Homo sapiens: one gene and its partners. The protein of the gene in region 4 interacts with the protein of the main gene of each other region in a pairwise test. Each region holds a gene or a part of one and is shown on either strand. Other genes may lie near its edges.

Region 1 (8,144 bases), on a different chromosome or scaffold from region 4:
CTGGCCGGGGCCGCGAGGTCAGGGGGCCCCTCTGCAGAATTTCTGGCCTCCGGGGGCAGGGCGCCCACCCGCCCCGCGCGGCTGGAGGCGACAGGCATGCCCTGTCTGGGGGCCTGCCCCTTTTTCCCTTTTAATTTCCTTTTCTTTCTGTGCTTTGCAGAAAGGGCTTGGCCTGGCGGCCGGCTGGACTGCAGATGTCTCTTCCAGGCGCCCTGGAGCCTCGCAGCTGCCGCCACCTCCAACTCACCCCATCCCCCAGTACCGGGGCTGGGGCCCGCCCGACCAGCATTTATTAAGCACCCTTTGTATGCGAGGCCCGGGCTGGCGAGCCTCTGGCTCTGGGCAGGTTAACCTTTAACCGGCTGGACAAGCCCTTCCAGGAGTGACCTTTCACCTCGGAGTCTTGCAGCCCCAGCCACCCAGACTGTGGTCCCACCCCGCCCTGAGCCCAGAGCTGGACACCAGAGCATGCAGCTGGGCCTCTGAGAGCTCTGGCCAGGACAGTGCCTTCTGCGCACCCCCTCCTCTGCCTCCCAGAGCCCTGATGAGACTTGAAGAATTGCCCTCCCTGGAGTAGGGGGAAAGATTCTTAGAGATCTTACAACACTTAAAAAGAAACTGAGGTTCTGGGAGAGCCAGGCACACCCAGCCCTGGGCCTCTCAACCTGCTCCAGGGACGTTCTGGCTGCCTGGGAGGTGGAGGAGGAGGCGTTAGTAAACACGAAAAGCAGGAAGGACTAGGATTAGACATGAGCAAGGACTTCCCGAGGTCTAGAGTCGGGTTCTGCCCACAGCCTGATGTAATCCCTGCTGGGAGAGAGGAAGGCGTGGGTGGGCAGAGACGACCCTTTGGTTCTGAGGCTGCATGGGAATGTGACTGGTAATTTGGGATGAGGGCAGGGATCCTAGGCCCCTTGCCTGGACCTGCTAGGATCTTTGGTGGGGAGCATTGGGGTGGAGGTCTCAGAAGGGATTGAAAAGAGATTTAGATGAGAGACAGGCGCTGTGGCTCACGCCTGTAATCCCAACACTTTGGGAGGCCAAGTCAGGAGGATCTCTTGAGACCAGGAGTTCAAGACCAGCCGGGGCAATAAAGTGAGACCCGTCTTGAGCCCAGGTGTTCAAGGCTGCAGTGGGTTATAATCACGTCACGTCACTCCACTCCAGCGTGAGCAAGACCCTGTCTCAAAAAAAAAAAAAAAAAGAAGAGGGAGAGAAGACTCAAGGAATCTTGAGGGGATTGTGAAGGGGAGGGAGCAAAGAACTAGGTTTGGGGGAGACAAGTCTTGCGAGGCAGCTGAGAGCTGGGTGGGAGATGGGGGAAGAAAGACCATCGCAGATCCCAGAAACTCCAGTAGTTCCAGTCCCAAAGGCTGCCCCACCCCCTTCCAGTAGCCTGGCCACCCCTGTGCCCCCTGGGGCCCGCCTGGGGGTGGATCAAGGCTCTACCCCGCCTCCCTGACCCCTGCCCGCGGCCCTGCAGTAACATTTGACCTTGCGGCGGCCGCAAACCAGGGACAAAGGGGCCTAGGCCCATCTGCTGAGGGGGCACCCGTGGGAATGGCCAGATCCTGCTGGGGCAGCCTGGGAACCTGTCTCCGTCCTCCCACATGTGACCTTGGCTCCCTTTGCCCCTCCACAGGCAACCTGGTGGGACCAGGAACTCAGGTCTTAGACTCTGGGGCTCGGCAGGGTACAGGGAAGAAATTCAGCTTCTCTGCCCCACCCCAACACGAGCAAGGTGGTCTGCCTCCATTTCCCTGCTTTCTTCAAAGTTGGCCCAAGTCCAGGGACAGCGTGTGGGTCGGAAGGTGACTAGCCCCAGCCCTCGCTGGAGGGGACTGTGCTCGCCACCATACTTCTTGTTCTGTTTCTGGGGTCAGGTTGACTGGATTCAAGTCCAGGCCGCTGACTGGCGCTGACCTCAGGCTGACGTGGTCCTGCCCTGGGAGAGGCGGTGAACACACCTGCACAGGTGAGGCCTGGAGCACCTGCCCCCAAGGCTGGGAATGAAAGTCTTTCTAATCCCTGTCTCGGGTTTCAGCTGCCACCCTGAAGGGGGACAGCTGGCCACTAATCCAAGCTTGGCTGGGTCGTTCCAAGCTCCCCTTTCCCAGACTCAGCCAGTCCTGGTGTGGAGGGGCAGGGAGATGTGACTTATGCAAATGACATGCTAATTCATTGCCTGCTATTAACCTGACACGTCCCACAGCTCCTGGGCCCCCAGGAGAAAGCTGGAACTGGCCACCATTGGCATTCATTCTGAGTTTCTCTTGAAGTACAACGCCCCCTGAGTCCCAGACTATTACCTTTGCTATGCCTGTCCCCCACCCAGAAACCCTTTACCTTATTTTATTTATTTATTTTTGAGACAGACTCTCCTATTTTGCCTAGGCTGGTCTTAAACCCCTGGGCTCAAGCAGTCCTCCTCCCTCGGCCTCCTGAGATACTGGGATTACAGGCAAGCTCGACCACATGGAGTCCAGAAACCCTTGACCTTAGCTTTGAGTTAGTAGCAACTCGTCATCCACACCCTGAATCTGAACCATTCCAGCTTCAGTCTCCCTCCTTTTTGTTTTGTTTTGTGTTTTATTTATTTATTTAGAGACAGAGTTTTGCTCTTATTGCCCGGGCACGATCTTGTTGTTGGCGCGATCTCGGTTCACTGCAACCCCCGCCTCTCAGGTTCAAGCAATTATCCTGCCTCAGTCTCCCGAGTAGCCGGGATTACAGGCATGTGCCACAACACCCAGCCAATTTTTGTATTTTTAGTAGAGACGGGGGTTTCACCATGTTGGCCAAGCTGGTCTCAAGCTCCTGACCTCAGGTGATCCTCCCCGCCTCAGCCTCCCAAAGTGCTGGGATTACAGGCATGAGTCACCACGCCTGGCCTGTTTTTTTTTTTGAGACAAGGTCTTACTCTGTGACCCAGACTGGAGTGCAGTGGCGTGATCTCAGCTCACTGCAACCTCCACTTCCCAAGCTCAAGTTACCCTCCCACTTTAGCCTCCTAAATATCTTTATAGGCACATGCCACCACGCCTGGCTAATTTTTGTATTTTTTTGTAGAAATGGGGTTTTGCCATGTTGCCCAGGCTGGTCTTGAACTCCTGGGCTCAAGTGATCTACCCACCTTGGCCTCCCAAAATGCTGGGATTACAGATGTGCACCACTGAGCCCGGCCCCCTTCAGGAAAATCTGCCAGCCAAACCCAGCATCTCCCTGGGAAGGGGCTGCCAGGAGAAGCTCTGTCCAGTCCCCATGAATCCCTCCCTGGGCTTCGGGAGACAGGCCAGTTGGAACTTCAGCTGTGGCTATGCAACCTCACGGACCCCCGAAATGCGTCAGTCCCAGGGACCTGGTCCCATAGCCCAGGTTGCTTCTGGCCTGACCCCACTGATATGAAGTTCACATTCCACTTGGTGCCAGGCCAAAGACACCTGAGTCTTTCTTCATTGCCTGGCCACACCCCATCAGGCCCTGGACACCCATGTGCACCAGCTTCCCTCACGCCAAATGTGCCCCAACATGCCAAATCATGCAACATGACATGATGTCACTCCAGGACAGTTTATGACATGCCACAGCTGTCTGGCATGTCCAGACATGGCTGGGTAAGGGGCCTACAGAAAGGTGTCCCCAAGCTGGGGAGGCGGGAGGGGAGGCCTGGGCTTCCCCAGGGCCCTTGCAGTGGCTTCGAGCACCGCCACCTCCTCGGCCTGCTGAGCCTCCATGAGTGCCATCTGCTGCTCCAACTTCCGGCGTTGCTCTTCCTGCTTCCGGTGGGCTCCTCGGAAGGCCAGGACCAGGGCGCTGGAAGGGGTGGGTGGCTGGGTCAGGAAACAGCCCCCGAGTCCACCCAAGGCAAGGGCCGTGTACTCCCACTCCCAGAATGGGGGCTCTTTCACATTGGGTCTCCAAGGGTCCCAGCTAGCTGGTCTTTTGTTGTTGTTGTTGTTGTTGTTTGAGACAGAATTTCGCGCTTGTCACCCAGGCTGGAGTGCAATGGTAAGATCTCCCCTCACTACAACCTCTGCCTCGAGGGTTCAAGTGATTCTCCTGCCTTAGCCTCCCAAGTAGCTGGGATTACAGGCGCCCACCACCACGCCCAGCTAATTTTTTTGTATTTTTTAATAGAGACAGGGTTTGACCATGTTGCCCAGACTGGTCTTGAACTCCTGACCTCAGGTGATCCGCCTGCCTCAGCCTCCCAAAGTGCTGGGATTACAGGCGTGAGCCACCATGCCCAGCCTGTTTTTTCTTGTTGTTGTTTTTTGAGATGGGGTTTCGCTCTTGTTGCCCAGGCTGGAGTGCAATGGCACAATCTCGGCTCACTGCAACCTCTGCCTCCCGGGTTCAAGCGATTCTCCTGCCTCAGCCTACCGAGTAGCTGGGATCACAGGCATGCGCCACCACGCCTGGCTAATTTTGTATTTTTAGTAGAGATGGGGTTTCTCCATGTTGGTCAGGCTGGTCTCGAACTCCCGACCTCAGGTGATCTGCCCACCTTGGCCTCCCAAAGTGCTGGGATTTCAGGCGTGAGCCACTGCGCCTGGCCCAGCCTGTTGTTTTTTTTTTTTTTTTTTTAGACAGAGTCTTGCTCTGTCACCCAAGCTGGAGTGCAGTGGTGTGATCTCTGCTCACCACAACCTCCACCTCCTGGGTTTAAGCAATTCTCCTGTCTCTCAAGTAGCTGGAATTACAGGCACGTGCAAAGACGCCTAGCTAATTTTTGTATTTTTAGTAGAGATGGGGTTTCACCACGTTGGCCAGGCTGGTCTCAAACTCCTGACCTCAAGTGATCTGCTGGCCTCAGCCTCCCAACATGCTGGGATTACAGGTGTGAGCCACCACACCTGACCGTTACTGCCTATCTTGGGGCAGTGGGGAATGCTAAGGCCCAGAGACAGCCAGGGATACTTCTGATATCCTGGTGGGGGATGGTGCCAGGGGGATTGGGGGGATGCAGAACAGTCCTACCTGTGGGCTTTGCATAAATCCCTGTTCAGCTCGGCACTCTGAGACCGTCTGGCTCGCCCCTTCTGAGCCACCTGTTCCAGCTCCCTGCGCAGAGACTGCAGCTGCTCCTGCAGGTCCAGTGTCCTGTTGCGAAGGAGAAGAGAGGGGGCTCACAGCCCCAGCCGATCCTGTTTCCCAGGTCTCCTCCTACCCACCTGCCCACAGTATTGTCATGTAAACACACCTGTACACCGGGGTACACCTTAGCTTCTACTGCAGACGACACCCCCGGGGGCTCTCACATAGGCTGCCTGCCCACCCCCCGCACAGCCCAGGACCCAGGCACACACCTGGTGAGCGATGCTGCCAGTTCCTGGGCTAACTTCTCTGGGTCCCAGGCTCTGCCCACCTGGCCACCATCAATGCCACTGGTGCCACCAGGGACAGCAGGAAGGCCCTAAGGGAGGCAGAAGACAAGAAAGTGACATTAACCTAGGCCAAGTCCGTGCTTGGCCCACACTGGACATTGGAGCTGCCCAGACAGTGGCAGCTGCTGTGCTCTCAGAGACCCACATCTGGTTCGATATACCAATAAGAGCAAAATTATACTCTGATAAGGGAAATATCCTATTTAATTAAAAAAAATTTTTTTTGAGACAGAGTCTCACTCTGCCACCCAGGCTGGAGTACAGTGGCACGATCTTGGCTGACAGCAACCTCCGCCTCCCAGGTTCAAGCGATTCTCCTGCCTCAGCCTCCCAAGTAGTTGGGATTACAGACACATGCCACCAGACCCGGCTACTTTTCGTATTTTTAGTAGAGACGGAGTTTCACCATGTTGGCCAGGCTGGTCTCGAACCTCATCTCTAAAAATAAAATTTAGGGGCCAGGTGTGGTAGCTCATGCCTGTAATCCCAGCACTTTGGGAGGCCAAGACGGGTGGATCACTTGAGGTCAGGCGTTCAAGACCAGCCTGGTCAACATGGTGAAACCCTGTCTCTACTAAAAATATAAAAATTAGTCTGGCATGGTGGCAGACCCCTGTAATTCCAGCTACTTGGGAGGCTAAGGCAGGAGAATCGCTTGAACTTGGGAGGCGGAGGTTGCAGTGAGCCAAGATCATGCCACTGCACTCCAGCCTGGGCAACAGAGTAAGATACGGTCTCAAAAAAAAAAATTAGCCAGGCATGGTGGCGGGCACCTGGAGTCCCAACTAACTGGGCGGCTGAGGCAGGAGAATCACTTGAAGCTGGGAGGCAGAGGTTGGAGTAAGCTGGGATCGCAGCACTGCACTCTAGCCTGAGCAACACAGTGAGACTCTGTCTCAAAAAAAAAAACAACAAAAAAACAAAAACAAAAACTAGAGATCCACTGGAAGTCCTTCCTCCTGTCTAATCCTTGTTTGAAATAATAATAATTTTTTTTTTGAGAAGAGTCTCGCTCTGTCGCCCAGGCTAGAGTGCACTGGCGTGATCTCAGCTCACTGCCAGCTCTGCCTCCCGGGTTCACGCCATTCTCCTGCCTCAGCCTCCCGAGTAGCTGGGACTACAGGCGCCCGCCACCATCCCCAGCTAATTTTTTGTATTTTTAGTAGAGACAGGGTTTCACCGTGTTAGCGAGGATGGTCTCGATCTCCTGACCTCGTGATCCGCCCAACTCGGCCTCCCAAAGTGCTAAGATTACAGGCTGGGATTACAGGCATGAGCCATCGTGCCCGGACAGTAATAATTTTTTTTTCTTTTTTTTTTTTTGAGACGGAGTCTCGTCGCCCAGGCTGGAGTGCAGTGGCGCAATCTCGGCTCACTGCAACCTCCACCCCTCCAGGTTTAAGCAATTCTCTGTCTCAGCCTCTGGAGTAGCTGGGATTACAGGCACGTGCCACCATGCCCAGCTAATTTTTTTGTATTTTTAGTAGAGACAGGGTTTCACCATGTTGGCCAGGCTGGTCTTGAACTCCTGACCTCATGATCCACCCGCCTCGGCCTCCCAAAGTGCTGGGATTACAGGTGTGAGCCACCGTGCCTGGCCAATAATAATTTTTTAAAAATTAGGCTGGACGTGGTGGCTCACGTCTGTAATCCCAGCACTTTGGGAGGCCGAGACGGGCGGATCAGCCTGAGGTCAGGAGTTTGAGAGCAGCCTGGCCAACATGGTGAAACCCTGTCACTACTAAAAATACAAAAATTAGCTGGGTGTGGTGGTGCACGCCTGTAATTCCAGCTACTCGGGAAGCCAAAGCAGGAGAATCGCTTGAACCTGGGACGCAGAGATTGCAGTGAGCCAAGATCGCACCACTGCACTCCAGCCTGGGTGACAGAGCAAGATCCGTTTCCCAAAAAAAAAAAAAAAGAAAAAAAAAATTAAAGGCCAGGCGCTGTGGCTCATGGCTGTAATCCCAGTACTTTGGGAGGCTGAGGTGGGCAGATCACCTGAGGTCAGGAGTTCTACACCAGCCTGGCCAACATGGTGAAACCCCATCTCTACTAAAAAATACAAAAATTGGCCAGGCACGGTGGCTCACGCCTGTAATCCCAGCACTTTGGGAGGCTGAGGCAGGTGGATCACAAGGTCAGGAGATCGAGACCATCTTGGCTAACACAATGAAACCCCGTCTCTACTAAAAAAATACAAAAAAAATTAGCCGGGTGTGGTGGCGGGCGCCTGTAGTCCCAGCTACTCGGCAGGCGGAGGCAGGAGAATGGCGTGAACCCGGGAGGCGGAGCTTGCAGTGAGCCGAGATTGCACCACTGCACTCCAGCCTGGGCTACAGAGCGACACTCTGCCTCAAAAAAAATAAAAAATAATAATAAATAAGCCGGGTGCAGTGGCTCAAGCCTGTAATCCCAACACTTTGGGAGGCTGAGGCGGGCGCATCACCTGAGGTTCAGAGTTCGAGACCAGCCTTAGTAACATGGGGAAACCTCATCTACACTAAAAATACAAAAATTAGCCGGGCGTGGTGGCGCGTGCCTGTAGTCCCAGCTACTCAGGAGGCTGAGGCAGGAGAATCACTTGAACCCAGGAGGTGGAGGTTGTGGTAAGCCAAGATCGGGCCATTGCACTCCAGCCTGGGCAACAAGAGCAAAACTCTGTCTCAAAAAAAAAAAAAAGAGATGAGGTCTCGCTGTGTGGCCCAGGCTGGAGTGAAATGACATAATCGTGGCTCGCTGAAGCCTCCAACTCCG
Region 2 (2,601 bases), on a different chromosome or scaffold from region 4:
CTGACTCTAGTTCAGGGCTCAATGGGAGAAAGGCTGGCATAGATAGTGCCCCAGTGGCAGGAGGCAGGCTGGAGGGTTGGGTGGAGGTGTGGCCATGGGGTGGGTTTGATGCCTCTGCATGGAGAGCTCCTCATCCAGTGGGACCCATCACCATCTGCAAAGTTGCTAGAAAAGTTTCTGGATGTTTCCAATTCTTCCACCTGCTTGTCTTCATACTTGTGGGCTGGTAGGCCAGCTCGGGAAGACACCTTCTCTAGGATCTCAACTTAGTTACTCATCAACATGGCTCCCGAGTTCCCACATTGGCCCCGAAGACACTTCACTCACGGCCATGGTGGGAAACTGTTCCTGTCACATGTCACGTAGGCTGTCTGGTAGCCTGCTGCTGCCTCATGGCCAGCTAACTGCTGGCCACATGCTGACTGGGAACCTCAGGGTCCTAACACACTTATAGAAGCACAAGACAGGTATTTTGTTTCTGATACAAGAACAAGCAAGACTGAGAATGGCTTTCTTTAATTTTGAATTGGAGCAATATGCTTTCCTGAGCATCAGGAAAGAGTGGTGATGTCACAGCAAAGGAGGGAGGCGGTGGCTAAGAACATGCACATTCTTGAATGTCCTCTGCATGGTGCCTGGCCTTCTGGATGGTTTCGGACAAAACTTTATGTGCTAGGTGGGAGTGGGAAAAGGAGTGGGGGAAGGATAAAGCCATCTTTGGACACCCACTCCCACTGTGGATAACCACAGCGTGTGGCCGAACAAAGCTGATTAGAACACAGCCCTACCTCGGGAGGCTGCCATCTGCCAGGCCCTCCTTCCCCTCCCAGCCTTCAAGAAATGTTATCTATGAAAGGGGAAAAATGCCAGCCACATCCTCATTCCAACTCTATCCTTAATGCAGCTTCACAAAATTCCTAAATTCTATCTTGGGTCCTTGAAGAGATTGGACTATGACTTGGGTGGCCCCCCAAAATCCTCACCCTTTCCCTTCCCTCAGTGCAAAGTCTCACCTGTGCAAAGACATCACTTTTAATTATTTTTTTTTAATTAAAATACTGTTATACCCAGTGGAATGCGGCAGCAATCCTGGTACAGGGTGGCATAACAAAACAGCCATGTTTACATTTTAAATATTTACGATAACTTAAACATACAGACACACATCATGGTCTTTGGCAGAAAATGTTCACAGCACAAAAAATACTTTAAAAGAAATACCAAATATTAATCCAAAATATATTAAGTTGTTTTTTTTCTTTCACAATATTTTTTGCCTTTTTTTCCTCTTTTTTCTTTTTGCTTTGTAAACAATGCACATGAACCAAATGTATTTTTCAGCTTTAAACAGGGGTAGGGGAATTTTTTAAAAAAAATTGCAATTGTCCAGCAAATGCAAATGTTTAAAAAGGAAACTTGAGGAACCATGGAAATAAAACAACACATACCAAACCTAAAAACGATAAAGGAAGAAAACAAAGAATCAAGGAGAACTAAAAACGGTAAAGACAAAACTGCTAAAACCCACCAATAGCTCCTGGGGCTGAAGTGAGGGACTCTTTAAGACCAGAAGTCAAAGTCACTGCTGCTAGCAGGCTGCCATGTGGGTGTTTCACCCCAATTCCAAAGCATCTGGTGCTGCTTTAGGGCGCTGGGCATGGGTAGCTTGAGGAGCCAGCCTCCTGGGCACTGTTTTGTGATGGGGGCTCCATTCAGAGGACTATTTGACTCTTGTAGCTCATTAACTAGTTTTCAACTGCTTTGCTCCTCTCCCAAACCCTCCAGGTGGGAATGAAGACACTTATGCTAACAAGACATCTCCAGTTTCTCAGAAAGAACTGGTACCGGGTAGGGCCACCGAAGCCCACCTGGGGGCATGGCAGATGTCTGTTCACGGTGGCTCATTTCATCTGGCTCAGGGTTTATGACCAAACTGACAGGATGTTCCAGGGACAGGAGCTGTGGAGCCACTTCAAGAGGCTGGTGGTGGGGGTCCCGTGGGCATTTATAGGGCTCAAGATAGAGGAAAAGGCAGCCGAGATCCTGGGAATCGAGCAGCTTTAACATCCACGGGCCAGGAACTTGAGGAGGAGGCATAACTGGGAGGCCAGTCAGAAGTTTCAGAAACTGACAGTAGGAAGAGGGGAGCACAGCCCATGGAGACACATCGGAACCTGCAGGCCTCAGTCTTCTGTTCCACAAGAAAGGGAATTATATACAAACTGCGCACTGTCTCCCAGTCCACTTAAATGGCCCCTCACCCACAGCAAGTGAGAAGGTGAGGCTGTGTCTTCTCCAAGACTAACACCCTTAATAGTCCCCAAAAAATTCAAGTCTTAGTATCCCAAGAAGGCAGTGAGGAACTGAAGAGCAGATGACGTTGGCTGGAACCAAACTTAGCCAGAGAACAATATGGCTGACTTGATTAGTGAACCAGTCCACCTGGTGTCCACGGGCAGCCGTCCGTGGAAATTAGTTCCCCAAACCAACACAGCCACTCCCTCCCTGCCTGACTGACAACTGGCAGGGCAGAGGGAGCTCAGCTCCTTTCTGAGCTGTCAGTTGCTACCCCAGTAGCAGGCCTTGGGCAAGAAGTCAAGG
Region 3 (7,000 bases), on a different chromosome or scaffold from region 4:
AGCAAAGGTGTCTCTTACAATCAGGGTCTGCAAAACCTTTCTAGAGGAGGAGCTAAGGCAAGCTTGTCCAACCCGCAGCCCAGGACGGCTCTGAATACGGCCTGTTTACGAACACAAATTTGTAAACTTTCTTAGTGTGACGGTAGTAAAGTCCAGCCCACAGAAGTTGGTTTTGGGGTTGTCACTATGTTTTTCTCATACTGGTTAAGACTTGTCATTTTTTCTCTAAAAGTATCTAGACATCTGGCTACTTTGGGAAAATCAGAGGATCAGGCAATACTGAGCCCACATCCTCATAAGCAACAATCACCTAGAGCTGAATAAAGATTTACCTTCTAGACAGACTACAGCCTCACCTCTGTGCCACAGTCCCCACCACTCTTTATTGTCTAGCACCTGGCTCATCTTACTTGCTTCTGTGGTGTGCCTGGCACCTGTAGGCTTCTGAGAACACCTGACTCACAGTGGTCAATCCCACATTTATCAAATAACTCTTTCATGAAAAGGTCAGTGACATGAAGAGTAACATGTCTCTTTGCAGCATCCTGCTTTCCCCCATAAATTCAAACAGGAAAAGAGTAATACTTCAATCAAGAGAGCTGGCCCTTTCTATCACTGGGGAAAAGGGACACACAGCTGCCAGCAGATGGCTCCCTGCTGCACTTGGGATGAAACCTGAGCACCTAAAAATGGCTGTCATGGCTGTCTTGTGGACCACCCACCCCTCTGAATGCACTTCCTTCCCCTCTGCTTTGTGTACCGCCCTCCCACCGCAAGGGCTTCCTTTATGGTTTCTTAACCACCAAGCTCAGAGCCTCTCAGTGTCCTCTGGCTTGTCAGCTCACCCTTCTGCCAAGTCTCAACTGAAATGTTTCCTTTCCCAAAAGGTTTCCCTGACCAGCCTATTTATAAAAGTAGGTCAACACCACCTCCCAACCCCCAGCCTTATTTTCTGTCTAGGCAGCTCCTGGCACCTTCTGCCATTTCAACTGCCACTTCCACACCACAGCTGCTTGTTTACTCTCTGTCCACCCTAGCCCTCTCATCATGGTGCACCTAGCCTTCAGCCCAGTACCTGGCATACGGTACATGTACAATAAACATCTGAGGACTAACAGAATGAAGGGATAAATGAACAGCCATTAGAAATGGACAGGACACCATCCACCCATGTCTCCTGACTTCCAGTTACCTCTTCAGCTTCTTCCTCTGAGTCAACCACAGGGAAGTCTTGCATGGACTGAGTGGTGCGCTCGGATCCATAAGCCCCCACAGCACCTTTTCCCTTTCTCTGCTTGGCTTCAATTGGGTTAATGATACCTGAGGAATTTCAGCAAAAAAAAAAGAGAGTCTTACGATCACAGCAATTCATGTATGTGAATCAGCCACTCAGTGAAATGACAGTTTCTTGCTCCTTCCACAAAATAACATGCTACTCAGGAAGGAGAGCTATTCTCTGCCCTCAGAACACTACTCTTGTCCCTTGTGATTTGAAACTTATGAGCATTTATGCTACCACAGAACAGTCTGCTGACTAGTTTATTTATATCCCAAATAGATTTCCATTTCCACTTGGATTGTTTAGTGGACAGGAAGAAAACAGAACACTACATTTATAACTGAGAACTCCAGCACACTAAATTCTATGCTTCACTTCTTTGGGAGCCTCTATTAGGGAAAATGCAATAATTCCAATACTATACTGATTCTGACTGAAGTGAAGCTGCAATTTAATATAAGACTCCTCACATATTTTACTTAGGAGTTCCTATCTCCTGTGTTTAACTTTTTTATAACAAGTTTAAGCCCTGGAAATAAACGTTGTTTTTCTCATAAAAGAGTTTACGAATAGGACCACAACATTTCAATGAAGACGTTCCCCTGACTCCAAATTTTCCATCCCTGCCCCCCTTCCATTTAGTTCCACTGAAGTCTTAAATAAGAGCTATCCCTGGGCCAGATGTGGTGGCTATGCTTGTAATCCTAGCACTTTGGGAGGCCAAGGTCTTGAACCAGCCTGGGCAACATAGTAAGACCCCATCTACAAAAAAAGAAAAAATTAGCCAGGCACAGCAGAGTGTGCCTGTGGTCCCAGCTACTTGGCAGGGTTGAGCCCAGGAGGTTGAGGCTGCAGTGAGCTATGATCATGCCATGCCATTGCACTCTACCCTAGGTAACAGAGTGAGACTTTGTATCAAAAAAAAGCAAAAAAACTGTCCCCTCATTCTCATTCAGTGTATCTTTACTCAAGTTCATGTATTTTTCATGTACCTAATGTTTTCAACACATAACCTGGATTTCACTTTAATAATTATTTAGAGGCCAGGCGCAGTGGCTCACACCTATAATCCCAGCACTTTGGGAGGCCGAGGAGGATGGATCACTTGAGGTCAGGAGTTCGAGACCAGCCTGGCCAACACAGTAAAACCCTGTCTCTACCAAAAATACAAAAATTAGCTGGGCGTGGTGGCGGGTGCCTGTAATCCCTGCTACTCGGGAGGCTGAGGCAGGAGAATCACTTGAACCCAGGAGGTGGAAGTTGCAGATGAGTTGAGATCGTGCCACTGCACTCCAGTCTGGGTGACAAGAGTGAAATTCTGTCTCAAAAAATAATAATGTTATTATTATTATTTAGAGACTGGAATTTGAATATGTAGGATACATTTGATTATATCTACTTGGCAATCATGCATAGGAAATAGCTCAAGAAGAGGGGGAAATGTTCCTGTAGGAAGAATCCAACTGTTTGGTTTGAGAGGCTTTGGTCTCAAGAAGGTAAGAGTGTGACAGGGGCTGTGTCTCAATGGGGCTGGCCATGAGAAGACAGGAGGAGACTGGGCTACTAGAGGAAGATGGAAGTAACCAATGCAGGATTTGCTCAGCCAGTTTTATAGCCATATGGCTCTAGCTATTACAAAAACTATGCACGATGTTTTACTGATATTCCTGAAGGACAAATAGGGTTATTTCCACAAAATTAAAACCCTTGTGAGTAGGGATGGCAAACTCAAATGACTCTGGGACCAAGAAAAGTTCCTGTGGGTTGGGGTGGAAGACAACAGGGGGTAATGGAGACTGCCTCCAAGAGAAGGCCATGTCCATCGTCCCAGGAGCAGTTCTCACTTGCCTCAACTAACTACTGCCAGGCAAAATCTAGAATTTTAGGTGAAATTGTCTGTTTTTTAAATATTAGCAACTAATTCATTTTTGTTTTTATTTATTCTATTTATTTATTTATTTATTTATTTATTTATTTATTTATTCAGGGATGGAGTCTCGCTCTGTTGCCCAGGCTGGAGTGATCTCGGCTCACTGCAACCCCCACTTCCTGGGTTCAAGCGATTCTCCTGCCTCAGCCTCCTGAGTAGCTGGGATTACAGGCACATGCCTCCACACCCAACTGATTTTTGTATTTTTAGTAGAGACGGGGTTTCACCATGTTCATCAGGCTGGTCTTGAACTCCTGACCTCAAGCGATCCACCACCCGCCTTGGCCTCCCAAAGTGCTGGGATTACAGGTATGAGCCACCACACCCAGCCTCATTTTTGTTTTTAGAAGCACTGGTCAGGACCAGAAAAAAAGCCTGTTTTCAACCTGTTTGCAGCCTGTTTTAGACCCTAACCCTTTCCTTGCTGTTGAAACAATTACTTATTTAACTTGAGCTTTGATAAAGCAAGGTAGCTTAGGAACGCAAATGTCTTGTGCTGGCAAACCAGGCTGGAGAGATAAAGTGCTTTTAAAAGGGAAAAGCAAACCTCCTCTCCCAACGCCCCTCTCCTTCCCTATGCCTGCCCTCCTCCATCATGCAAGACGACAAAGGTGCAATACCTTGTGCATTCTTCCCGAGGCCCCGTCCAGGGACGTAGCCCATCTTCTGAAGAAGCTTCTGTCCAATTCCTTTTGTGTGTCTTTCCCAGCTGCCGAAGTCCATGAAAGATTTGGTTCCTCCTGCAAAACCTTTCTGGCTGGGCTTAAAATTGCCACCCTGCAAAAAAGAAAAATCAAAGCTTAGTTAATGGAAAAACAAAATGAAGAAAAATCTAAGAAAGCTTGGCCAACAGGAAAATGGCCTAAGTTATACAGCACTATGAAAAGTGTCATATGAACCAAAAATGTGTGTGATAACGTGTCAGGAAGGAAGAGACTGCACTACACACTTCACAACTCACAGAAACCTGCCACCAAAAGGAGACACTCACGAAATTCATTCCAGATGAGTTTCTCCCTGGCTAGAAAATGCTTGGGCCACAATGACCTTTGAAGGATATTCCTAGGGTCACAATCCTGCAATAGAGACTACCGTTTTTAGCTTCCTTGGTCCAAAATCCTTAGGAAAGTCGTCCTGCTTAACAGGTTTCTCTTCGTCATCAGAATCTTCCAACTCTGCCTCCTCCGCTGCCCCTTTCTTGAGCCCTGCGCTGATGAAGTTGACTGGCGCAGAGTAGTCACGGGCCCTGTAGGCACAGAAACAAAGCCCCACCAGGTCGGTAAAGAACTCTTTTCTCTGCAGCGATCCTTTTGCAGAAACTACGTGCTTGAAGACTCCTTAGAGTGAATCTCATGGGAGGTTTTTTAAAAAAGTAACACATTTTTTAATGTGTCAAAAAATCCAAAGGACCCCAGATTTGGCTTCCTGTAGTCACATTTAACATTTTACCTGACATATCCCTCTACGGCTGAAGAGTTATCACATCAATGTAGGGTTGATTACAAATTCAAAATATGATGTGATAATACAATTTTCCTACATTTTAAAAAATTAATTTATCATAAAAAGCAATTGTTTTGAAAACTATTTCAAGTACAAAAATCCAACAGGAGCAGAAATTTTGATGGAAAATCATAAATAAAACCCATTGAAAGATTATATGAATGTAAAGCATGTAACAATTATATTAATCAAACTTAGAAAAAGCTCCTAGCCATTAAATTTATTTGAATGTGAAAATTTCCAGCCAGGGCAACATGGTGAGACTTCGTCTCTATAAAAAAAAAATAAATAAAAATTAGCCAGGCATGGTTGTGCAAGCCTGTGGTCCTAACTACATGGGAAGCTGAGATGGGAGGATTGCTTGAGCCCAGGAAGTTGAAGCTGCGGTGAACTATAATCATGTCACTGCACCCCAGCCTGGGCAAAAGAGTGAGACCTTATCTCCAAAAAAAAAAAAAAAAGAAAAGAAAATTACACTAAAGTCCCCTAAGAAATAAGAAATTAACTCTATAAAATGAAATATATTGATTTAAACTCTGACTGCTTCAAGTACTTACATTAAGCCATTAACCTCAGGTCTTTTTTGTATAAAATAAAATTGATATATTTGTACTGTGTGGTTTAAAAAAGAAAAAATTACAATAAAAAACCCTGGAGCCAGGTACAGCGGCTCATGCCCATAATCTCAGCACTTTGGGAGGCTTGAGGCCAGGAGTTCAAGACCAGCTGGGCCAACATAGCAAAATCCTATCTCTAATAAAAATACAAAAAACTAGCTGAGTGTGGTGGCACACGCCTGTAATCCCACGCCACTCAGGAGGCTGACGCATGAGAAACGCTTGAACCCAGGAGACAGAGGGTGCAGTGAGCTAAGGTCACGCCACTGCACACTCCAGCTTGGGTAATAGAGACTGTGTTTCAAAGAAAAAAAGAAAACCTGGGAATACAGCAAATAAAGGGATGCCTTGTAAAATGACCAACCTAGTAATTCAACACCCTCAGGGCAACAACAGAATTTAGGGAGTTTTTTCCTAAAATTGTAATATAACTTAGTGATTTAGATCCCAAACTCTAGAGTCAGATAGGTCCAGGTTCCAATTCTAGCTTAGCCTCTGCCTAGTTGTATGACCATTAGCCTCAGTCTCTTAATCTGTAAAATGGGGACAATAATGGTACCTTTCTCATAAGGAAAATTAATCCAGGTTTATGAAATAGCCAGGACAAGTAAGCAGCCAAGAGATGTTAGCTATTATTATTATCTTATGATTATGCAATTCTTGTTCCCTGATCTATTTGTCATCCACTTTCAGACTTCCTTGTGGATGAGAAGTTTGGACTAATCTCTATACTCTTTCTCCCCCAGCCTCCTTTGAAAAAGGCACATTCTCAGCTGGGTGTGGTGGCTCACGCCTGTAATCCCAGCACTTTCGGAGGCCGAGGCAGGCGGATGACAAGGTCAAGAGATCCTGGCCAACATGGTGAAACCCCGTCTCTACTAAAAATACAAAAATTAGCTGGGTGTGATGGCACATGCCTGTAGTCCCAGCTACTCGGGAGGCTGAGGCAGGAGAATCACTTGAATCCAGGAGGCAGAGGTTGCAGTGAGCCAAGATTGCACCACTGTACTCCAGCCTGGCGACAGAGCAAGACTTCATCTCAAAAAAAAAAAAAAGAAAAAGAAAAAGGCACACTCTCAATAGGATAGAGCCTAGAGGCCACAGGTGAGGCCATGGAGGAAAAAACCCCCAACCTGGCACACCCTGGTTGAGTGAGGTTCAGCCAGGGCACACATAACCTTGTGCTGGGGAGAAGACGTGCAGCCTGAATCCTCATTGCCCACCACTATCCTAGACCAGTCCTCCACTACCTGTGCAGGGACCACTGGCTTGGCCTCCTCACAGTCTTCCACTGTGGCTCCATGCCTATTGAGCACACCAGCAAAAGGGTCTTCTCAAAACATAACCCAGCCCCACATCACACCCTCTCTATCACACACACTATGCTACCCTTCCCCCTCTCTGCTCCAGCCCCCAAGCCTTTCATATCCTTGTGGATACCGTGATGCTTCCCATCAAGGGCCTTTGCATATTGGGACCTCTTCTACCACCCTAGTTACCTTCTACTGTCAGTCATATCAGCTTAAGGGTCACTTTTCTCCACAGAAATCTTCCTTGACCTCTCAGAATAGATGAAATGCCCTAAAATGTGTTCTCCCTCATGTCCTCATGTCCCTCATGTCCTGCATCACAGTCACAAGTTTGATCGTCTGAGTTGTTAATGCCTATTTC
Region 4 (9,670 bases):
GCAATCTGAAATAATTTTGAACACTTCTAAATTCTAGAATTTATCTTATAAGAAATTAAATTGTGTTAATTATTGTGTTGGCAAAGGGTTCTTATTATTGATATTAAATAATGGTTAGTTTTACTTAATGAATGTACATGATCGATTTATTTTTATTACTTTGTGAACAGAGACATCCAAAGTGAATTATCTCAAACAGCTCTACATCCTCCTCTACAATCTTACATACACACTGTGTGTGTGTGTGTGTGTGTGTGTGTGTGTGTGTATTTGAGACAGGGTCCCACTCTGTCACTCAGGCTGGAGTACAATGGTGTGATCATGGCTCACTGCAGCCTCAACCTTTGGGGCTCAAGCAATCCTCTCACCTCAGCCTCCCAAGTAGCTGGGACAGCAGATGTATGCCACCATGCCCAGCTAATTTTTTTTGTATTTTTGTATAGAGATGTGGTTTTGCCACGTTGCCCAAGCTGTTCTCAAACTCCAGGACTCAAGTGAGCCTCCTGCCTCAGCCTCTCAAAGTGCTGGGATTACAGGCGTTAGCCATCATGCATGCCCTGCCCAGTTTCCTAAAATATCCAACTTTAAAAAATGACACTGCAATGTGACACTCAGTGCTAGGTAAAATTGGAAGTAATGCACCTTTACTGCTTTCATCTTTGGATTTGATTTCCTATTTCCTTCTTGTTAATCCCTTGGAGCATTAAAAGGCTACCCTTCTAACCACAAAGGGCTTTTTGGTGTTAATGCATTGTACAAATTCAGGATGAAGAGGCCTTAGTGTGGAAGCTGTTTGCAAGGAACAGGTCTGGTCACATGTGGTGTGATGACTACAAAGAAAGTGAACACAATTTTTACTTTCTTTTTCTTTTCTTTCTTTCTTCCTTTTTTTTTTTGAGACAAGGTCTCAGTCTGTTGCCCAGGTTGCAGTGCAATGGCACGATCTCAGCTCACTGAAACCTCCGCCTCCCAGGTTCAAGCGATTCTCCTGCCTCAGCCTCCGGAGTAGCTGGGATTACAGACATACGGCATCACGCCCAGCTAATTATTATAGATTGGTCCTGGTTCTTTGGTTGGCCAGACCATCCTGTAAAACACTGGCAAGCCAGAAATCATCAAGAGTCACCCCTGGAACTTGGGTCATACACTTGCAGGCACTTGAATGAACGTGGAGAATTACTTGGAGAATCACCAAGGGTAGACACAAGACTCTCTTTAGATAACAGAAAGGCACTTAGGGAGAAGGAGAATTGTAAATTACTTTGTTATTACTCCAAAGGGCAGAATTAGGTTTAGATACCAGGTTACTAAAAAAAAATTTAGCAACCAGTAATAACCAAGGAGAATAGTAGTTACTGGAGGTGTTTAGTTACATGCCGGGGGATCAAGAAAGAGAAGGCCATCCCTGAGTGCTGGGTTAGCTTCATACATGTAGCTTCTAACCTCCTTTAGGCTTCAGGATTCTGGACATTGAACCGTGCTTCCTTTATCAACAATGATATGGAAAGCTGAGTATCTGGAAGGACTACTAAAGGAATTCTTTTTCAGAAACTTTTGCCACGTATTAGGGAACCTACTTCAGTCTGAAGTCCTCAGCAGCCAGTTTAGCATTATCAATTTGCAGGACACACCGAGCATTTTGCAGTTGAGCATCCTTAATCTGGAAAATACATGAGAAAGAATGACATTTTCTTTTTTATTTATTTATTTATTTATTTATTTATTTATTTATTGAGACAGAATCTTGCTCTGTTGCCCAGACTGGAGTGCAATGGTACGATCTCGGCTCACTGTAACCTCTGCCTCCCAGGTTCAAGCAATTATCCTGCCTCAGCCTCCCGAGTAGCTGGGGTTACAGGCATCCGCCACCATGCCCGGCTAATTTTTGCATTTTTAGTAGAGACAGCATTTTGCCATGTTGGCCAGGCTGGTCTTGAAGTTCTGACCTCAGGTGATCTGCCTGCCTCGGCCTCCCAAAGTGCTGGGATTACAGGCGTGAGCCACCGTGCCCGGCCAAGAATGACATTTTCAACTGGATAGGAGTTTACAAGGATTTAGTTTATCCCCAGCTACAGTGACTATTATGTCAAAAATGATGTTCATTTCAAGTATTTCTACATGAAAATATATAGAAAAAATAATGACATAGTTATTTAACATAACAGAGTCATAAAATGCAACTCTAGATGCCCCAGGGTTTGGTCTACTTTCTTGTGATTTTACAGAAGGATAATTTAACTCAACTTGAGTCATCACACCTTATTGAGTGCCTTGCCTTTGATGTTTCTACTTAGGACATTTCTTTTAGCCCCTGTGGTCTGGTGAACTCCCATTCCTCCCTCATGTCTCAGGTTCGACAACATTGCTTCATAGGAGCCTTCACAGATGCTCTCAAAACTGAACTGGATGATCTGCCTGTGCTCTCATTATCCCTCTGTGTGCTGGTCCCTCTGTCCATCCCTGTATCCTCATAAATCATATTGTGTCCACCATAATATTCCTCAGTCCCCAGCATGGTGCCCAGCACCTAGTTAGTGTTCATTCAGTATTGGCTGAATGAAAGAACATGATGCATGAAAGAACGAAATGCATGATGGAGGCATATAGATGAAAAATCTACTTGCAGAAGATGTTACAATGACATTTCTCTTTCAATGGACCCAGTTTTGGAGAGGGCTGCTTCCTATGGTTGGGACTGTCCAGCTCAATGGGACGGATGGCCTGTGCCTGTGTATTTCAGATGAACCAAACTAGAGTCAGAAACACGAGACAGGTGTGGTTCGAACATTTTTAGTGAGAGCTTGCGAAGGATGAACTTTATTCCGGAAGGGCTATTTAAATGCCATTGCTTCACATGCCCATAGTTTCTAAAATTCCAAAGTAACTTCCCATGGAGTCCGAATCAAATTGCCCTGATGTTTAGTACAACTCAAGAAAAACAGACTTGCTGGTAAGTAAATGCGCTTTGCTCTAAAGGAGTATGAATCTTAACACAAATTACAGTGAACACTTTTCTTAATTAGATAAGAACTTTAATTTGAAGCAAGTGCTCTGTGTCATATCTGAAATTTTCAATTAGGAGCAAAGTCTTCTGCTTTTATTCCATGAAACTGATAAAATACAGAGCTCCACCCTTTTTTTGATGACATAGGAGGAGGTTGTGATATGATTGTAATAAACATGAATTGGGGGCAATAGAACATTTTATTACTGTAGAAGTAGTTTCTGAACTGCTTGATGCTGATGGTCATGTTATTAAACAGGGCACTTAAAAATCCAGGCATCATTAAGACCCATATTCCTGCCACACTGTTTCCACCCAGAATCACTTTGCTATTTAAATCTGCAGTACAGTATTCTAATAGTCATATTATAACATTTACTTAAATAAAAGGAGAAAAGTCTTTGAATTTACTGGGGTTTCAAAACTTGATAAGGACTAGGTGAAAAACTAAGAGAGATTTATCACGTAATTAATTTTTAGCTCTTTTCAGAAAGATTGTTCACTATACATTTAGCCCTGATGTGATAAGCTGTGACAAAGATTCATTTTATTCCGGAGGATAAAATGTTCATATTTTGTATGTAATTGTGTTAAACATTAAAAATAGCATGATTTAAGGTCATCCTGTTGTACAGTCAGGTACTCCAGCACTAAAGGTAGATGAAAGAATTTTTATAGATGTAACATTTTAGCCTAATTTGCTTTACAAAGTCCATTTGGACCTACCTAACATAGATAACCTCTTGATTTATCTTGAAGCTAAACACAGAGTAGGAAACACAAGCATCATCTCTCACCTGACTTCGCAGCTCTTCAATTTGTCTGTAATATGCACTGTAGTCGCGACCAGCCCTCGGGGCGTTGGTTTCGTACCACTGCTTGATTTGCACTTCAAGTTTGGAGTTGGACTGCTCCAGGGTCCGCACCTTTTCTAGGTAGCTCGCTAGACGGTCATTTAGGTTCTGCATGGCCATTTTCTCATTGCCAACAAACAGGTCCCCGCCGCCTGTGAGATCGCTCCCATAGTTCACCGTGTGTCTGGAGTTGGAGATGCGGATGCCCCGGCCTCCAGCACCCCCATAAACGCTGGGTGTCGTCCCGAGGCGCTGCATGCCCACTGTACTGACTACAGGGGCCTGCAAGGAGGAGCTCAGGCTTCTGTGGAAGCTTCTGCGACTGAAATCCATTGGAGATTCCAGGAGGGAGCACCTGTAGCTTCAGGATGGTTGGGGCAGAGTGTGTCTCATGGAGGGTGTTGAGCTAGCCTTTTATGAAGTCCACAGGCAAGAAACTCCTCCTCTGCTGACATGTCACTAGGATTGGCACCACAGTCCACCTTGCCTTACTTCCACGCCCCCCGCTTTGTATAGCAATATGTTAATATGCTTAATTCAATTCCAGAAAATACCACTAGAGGCATTTCTTGGAGGCTTTTATCAGGGGCAACTTTTTTTTTTTTTTAATTAAACAGGTAATAAAAGGAAACAGGAAAGTGTATTCTTTTAGCCCATGCGCCTGCCTTGGCAGGTTTTTTTCATCCTAACATACACACAAAGAATATTTACAATCCTCATGTATAATTTAGGTATCTAAAAAGGCAGATGTGCCTACATAACTGAAAGTCACAATGGAGATAAAGGACAATGTTTGATTTGTATTGAGGAGTTGCTCTTCAGAACCTCTGTTTCATGCTTTGCTTGTGTTTGGCTTTTAAGTTTATTGTGTTTTGGACATCTTATTTTATAAGACTATTAAAATATTTTGTACAAACACAAAACCTCGAATCCCTAAACCAGGAATGAAACCATTGTACATTTGGAGATGTAGTTTGGGGATGTGAATTAAATGAATTTAGCTGAGTGATGGATTAGATGATTTGGGAGGTTATTTTCTTTCTATTTCTAATGTTCTATGACTAAATATTGCATTTTAGGTTTCCAGTCACCACCTGGCTTCAAGTCCTGTTACCAAGACACTTAGAATAAATCACACAGTGCTTTGTACCTGGCATGGTATCAGGATGGGTCTCCTCTTTTGTATGAGGCCAGCTTAACACCCACCATGAGACAGACTCTGCCCCATCCATCCTGAAGCTACTTACAGGTGCTCCTTCTAAAGTCCCCAGTGGATTTCAGTTGCAGAAGCTTCCATGGAAGCCTGATCTTCCTTGTATGCCCCCATAATCACAGCGAGAGTGGCTGTTTATATAGGAAGGGGTGCAGGCGGGGACTTGGGACTACACTCAGCTTCCAGGGTTGGGCTGGAGGCAGCTGCTTGTGTGTGGACCTCTAGACACATGGGCATGATCTCATCGGTGGGAATCTGATTGTAAGCAACCAATAAATGCCTGAGTCACTTGCTTCCCTTCATTCAAACCCCCTGGCTGAGAATTCACACTTCCCATGAAGCATGTAAATCACTTCCTTAGTTAATTAGATAATCACTAATTAATATAATTAGATAATCAGTTAATCACTTCCAAGTTAATTAGAAGGGATTGGAAAAGTCACTAAAAACATCTAATTAATTGTCATCCTGATACTTTAATGGAATTGAGATTTGTATATAATTAAGCAAGCAAGTAAATGCAAAAAAAATTGGAATTTAATTGTCTTATTTTAGTGGCTTATTTGTTGTTGCTGTTGTTCTGAAAGCCAGTCACTTAAAAAAAATTTTTTTTGAGTTTTTAGAAACCAGTGGCTTTTTTACTTTTGAGTTTAAATTTCTTTTACACACAACTTTCTTCTAAAATAAGGTCAGATCATATTATTTCTCTCTTATAAACAGTATACTTTAAAATAATACATTGTGTTTGATTTTATCTTAGTTATATCACAGAAATAAAAATTGAGATAAAATGGAATCTATTTTATGCATTTTATGGTATATGTGTGGGCAGCTCTTATATTTTTATCCATTCATGTATTCATCAGCCAATACTGAGTACTCACCACCAATGACTGGACTGGTAGCAAGAAGACCTTGCTAACTTATTAGAGTTATAAATTACTTTGTTAATAGATGTCACAGCTAAACTCTGTAGCAGAGAAGAACTTTTTATAAACACATGAACTATGTTCTTTATACATGTATTCAAAGATGAATTGTTTTTGGTGTTGATTAATGGGGTAGGAGGTTGTTAGATTAAAGTCATTGGAAAATTATACTATTTAAATTACACAAGTTTTATAGTAAGTTGGTCTCAGCTAAGAGTTTCATATGCTAACACATGATCAAGGTGTGTAGAAGCATTATAAAATCAATAGTTAGCTTTATAATTAGAAAAGAACATGAATGCAGTTGTTAAACATGATGATTTTTGTTCTCTTTTGTAGCACAATTCTTCCTTATGGCTGGACCTATTTATATCAAAGAGTTGAAAATCCCATTTTTAGTTATTTTCCATTTTATTTTTATTTTGAGACAGGGTCTCACTGTGTGACCCAGGCTGGAGTGCAGTGACACAATCACAGCTCACTGCAGCCTTGACCTCCCAGGCTCAAGTGATCCTCCTGCTTCAGCCTCTCAAGTAGCTGGGACTACAGGCACACACGCCATGCTTACATAATTTTTATTTATTTATTTTTGGTAGAAACAGGGTCCCACTATGTTGCCCAGGCTGGACTCAAACTCCTGAGCTCAAGTGATCCTCCCACCCCACCCTCCCAAAATGATGGGATTACAGGTGTGAGCCCCTGTGTCCAGCCGTTTTTTTTTTTTTTTTTTTTTTTTTTGAGACGGAGTCTTGCTCTGTCACCAGGCTGGAGTGCAGTGGCATGATCTCAGCTCACTGCAACCTCCCCCTCCCCGGTTCACACAATTCTCCTGCCTCAGCCTCCCTAGTAGCTGGGATTACAGGTGGGCACCACCACGCCGAGCTGATTTTTGTATTTTTAGTAGAGATGGGGTTTCACCACGTTGGCCAGCCTGATCTTGATCCCTTGACCTTGTGATCTGCCTGCCTCAGCCTCCCAAAGTGCTGGCATTACAGGCGTGAGCCACTGCACCCGGCCCAGCCAATTTTTTTCTTTTTTTTGAGAAATAACTTTGTCTATATCTTATTCCAGAAATCTTTGGCTAGTTTTGGTAAGTTTTTGAGGTTTTAAATTTAAACTAAAATATGATACAATAGTGTCATCATTATGAGGTATAGTCATTCAATCTACCAATTTGTTGGAGTAGAAAAAATTCTACTGGAAAGCCTCCCACCTGTTTATATAAGGGCAGGAGAATTTGCTGGCTTCTCTATATCACTGAGTTTTGTACTTTTGTAGATTATTCGATCTTATAATGTGACCACAGGAAATCAAGTGAGTTTTTCACAGCAATTCATTTTTCTGAGTTATATCTCGAGGACTGAGTAAAGATCCTATTGACCCTTGTTCATACACAAAGTCATGAATTTAGAGACCCTGGTATTTCAGGCTGTTGGGTGACTGCAGCTGTAAATAAATACTTATTAGATCCCAACTTCCTTGTAGCTAGTAGGAGATACATTTTGACTTCTGAGACACTCTACTGAGAGTGTTAATGATTAATATTAAGTATGGCCAGTAGTTGGGAAGGCTATTATAAGCACTACAGTTTTCAGAGGGCTTTCAACTTTTTTCTTTTTTTTTGTATTCTACCATGACCAAGCTATTGCAATCACATATGATAGACATAGAACCTGCAGTCTCTGGAGTGGCATCTTGTTCAGACAGGGAGAAGGAGGGTGGAAGTATGGATGAAGGAAGTTTTGCCCTGAGTTATTTGTTGAAGCGAGGAGATGGGTACAAGGAGGTTGATGTATAGTAAACTTACATCATTGTATTCTGCACAGTTAATCAGTCATATTTAGGTTTTTGTTTGTACTTATTTGGTAATTCTCAGCTGTGTTTTGATGAGTTGGATGGATTTATTTATTGTCTCATAGTGGCTATAGAATGATTGGATGAAGAATATAAATATAAATTGTTTTAGAAAATAAAACAAACTTAAAATTGGAGCAAGTACCAAGCAGATCTGAAATACAAACCAGAGGAAATAAATAATGCCGTTAAAATTACAAGTTCAGTGGATGGATCCAGGAACAGATTAAGCCAGGATTATTGAACAAAATGTAGCTCTGAGGAAAATTTCCAGAATGCAGCTAAGTGACGAAGGAGGAAGTCAAGAAGGCATGAAGGCTATAATTAGAAGGTCTAAATATGTCTAATCAGAGTTCCAGAAGAAGACACAAGAGAATAAGAAAACATTCAACAAAATAAAAAGTGAGAATTTTATAGAATTCTTTAAAAAAAACCCAAGTTCTCAGATTAAGGAGACCTAATGAATTCCAGGCAAAAGGAATAAAAATAAATCACTACACACATTGAGGCAGAAAACCAGATAATTACAAGCAGATAGAGAATAAATCACCAACAAAGGAATGGTGGTTAGACTGATGACTGACTCCTCAAAAGCAACAATGGACACTGGAAATGGAATAGAATCTTCAATGTGCTGGGAGGAAATAACTGCCATTCCGGAATTTTCTGACTCGGTAACATTATATTTGAAGAAGGGTAAAATAAAGCCATTTTCAACATTTAAAAAACTGAATTTGCCATCAACTTCTAAGTTTTCACTAAGAGCAATCTGAAAGAATGTGTTTTAAGCAGAAGGAAGATGATTCCAGATGAAAGTTCTGAGATGCATAAAAGAATTAAAATAATGAACAAATAGAGTGCTAAGCATGCGACCAAATGTAAATGTAAAGACAAGTATTGGCTATAAAATAATATATCTATTGAGAAGAAAAAACAATATGGAATTAAAGTAGATGAGGGCTGGAAGGGGATGAATGGAGTTAAATTGTTCTAAATTGCGGGACTGTTTAGGAAAACAGCAAACATACAGATTAACTTTAGATATTGACAGGTTAAGAATGCATATTATATTTTCCACACAGGGACACATGGCGGAGAACAACACACACTGGCACCTGTGGTTGGGGGGAAAGCATCAGGAAGAATAGCTAATGGACGCTAGGCTTAATACCTGGGTGTTGGGATGATCTGTGCAGTAAACCACCGTGGCACATGTTTACCTATGTAACAAAACTGCACATCCTGCACATTTACCCCTGAACTTAAAATAAAAGTTGAAGAAAAAAAAGAATGCATATTATGTTTTCTAATTTTATGGTTTTGCCTTTCACATGATGGCTCTTACAATGATCTGGAAATAAGCCAGTGAATTAGCACAAAGAGCTCAGAAACAGATCTGTTGCCTATAGAAACTAATTTTGTACGGCTTGGGCATTTCAAATCAATGAGGAAAGAAATGGAGTATCCCATATTTAACAAATGGCAGTTGTATTTCTGTCTAAGGCAAAATTTACCTAAAATATAAGAAAATGAATTCCAGATTCATTAAAGATAAAAATGTGAAAAGTTAAAAACTATACAACATTTAGAAGAAAACACAGAATAATATCTCTAGGAATTAGAGTAAAGGAGTATTTTTAAACAAGACACAAAAAGTGAAAACTGTGAAGTACAAAATTGATACTGATTTAGCAATTTTTATTCATTAAAATATACCATAATTATAATGAAAAAAGCCTCAAACAGGGAGCAGATATTTAGAAGTCATGTAACTGACAAGCAATTAGTTTCCAGAATATGGAAAATTCCTACAAAT

What was found.
Region 1: the proteins of KRT20 (region 4) and USHBP1 interact in binary tests that used the Homo sapiens proteins (3 or more experiments, as listed by UniProt).
Region 2: the proteins of KRT20 (region 4) and AMOTL2 interact in binary tests that used the Homo sapiens proteins (3 or more experiments, as listed by UniProt).
Region 3: the proteins of KRT20 (region 4) and TFIP11 interact in binary tests that used the Homo sapiens proteins (3 or more experiments, as listed by UniProt).

The regions. Positions count from the first base shown.
Region 1 is NC_000019.10:17,246,602-17,254,745, forward strand, and holds the end of USHBP1 (harmonin-binding protein USHBP1), read right to left. Parts: intron 5,417-8,144; coding exon 5,310-5,416; intron 5,104-5,309; coding exon 4,981-5,103; intron 3,814-4,980; coding exon 3,624-3,813; 3' UTR 2,570-3,623; downstream 1-2,569.
Region 2 is NC_000003.12:134,354,847-134,357,447, forward strand, and holds the end of AMOTL2 (angiomotin-like protein 2), read right to left. Parts: 3' UTR 501-2,601; downstream 1-500. UniProt on the Homo sapiens protein: Regulates the translocation of phosphorylated SRC to peripheral cell-matrix adhesion sites. Required for proper architecture of actin filaments.
Region 3 is NC_000022.11:26,502,474-26,509,473, forward strand, and holds part of TFIP11 (tuftelin-interacting protein 11), read right to left. Parts: intron 4,456-7,000; coding exon 4,302-4,455; intron 3,987-4,301; coding exon 3,830-3,986; intron 1,321-3,829; coding exon 1,193-1,320; intron 1-1,192. UniProt on the Homo sapiens protein: Involved in pre-mRNA splicing, specifically in spliceosome disassembly during late-stage splicing events. Intron turnover seems to proceed through reactions in two lariat-intron associated complexes termed Intron Large (IL) and Intron Small (IS).
Region 4 is NC_000017.11:40,880,995-40,890,664, forward strand, and holds the start of KRT20 (keratin, type I cytoskeletal 20 precursor), read right to left. Parts: upstream 4,249-9,670; 5' UTR 4,192-4,248; coding exon 3,802-4,191; intron 1,661-3,801; coding exon 1,578-1,660; intron 1-1,577. UniProt on the Homo sapiens protein: Plays a significant role in maintaining keratin filament organization in intestinal epithelia. When phosphorylated, plays a role in the secretion of mucin in the small intestine.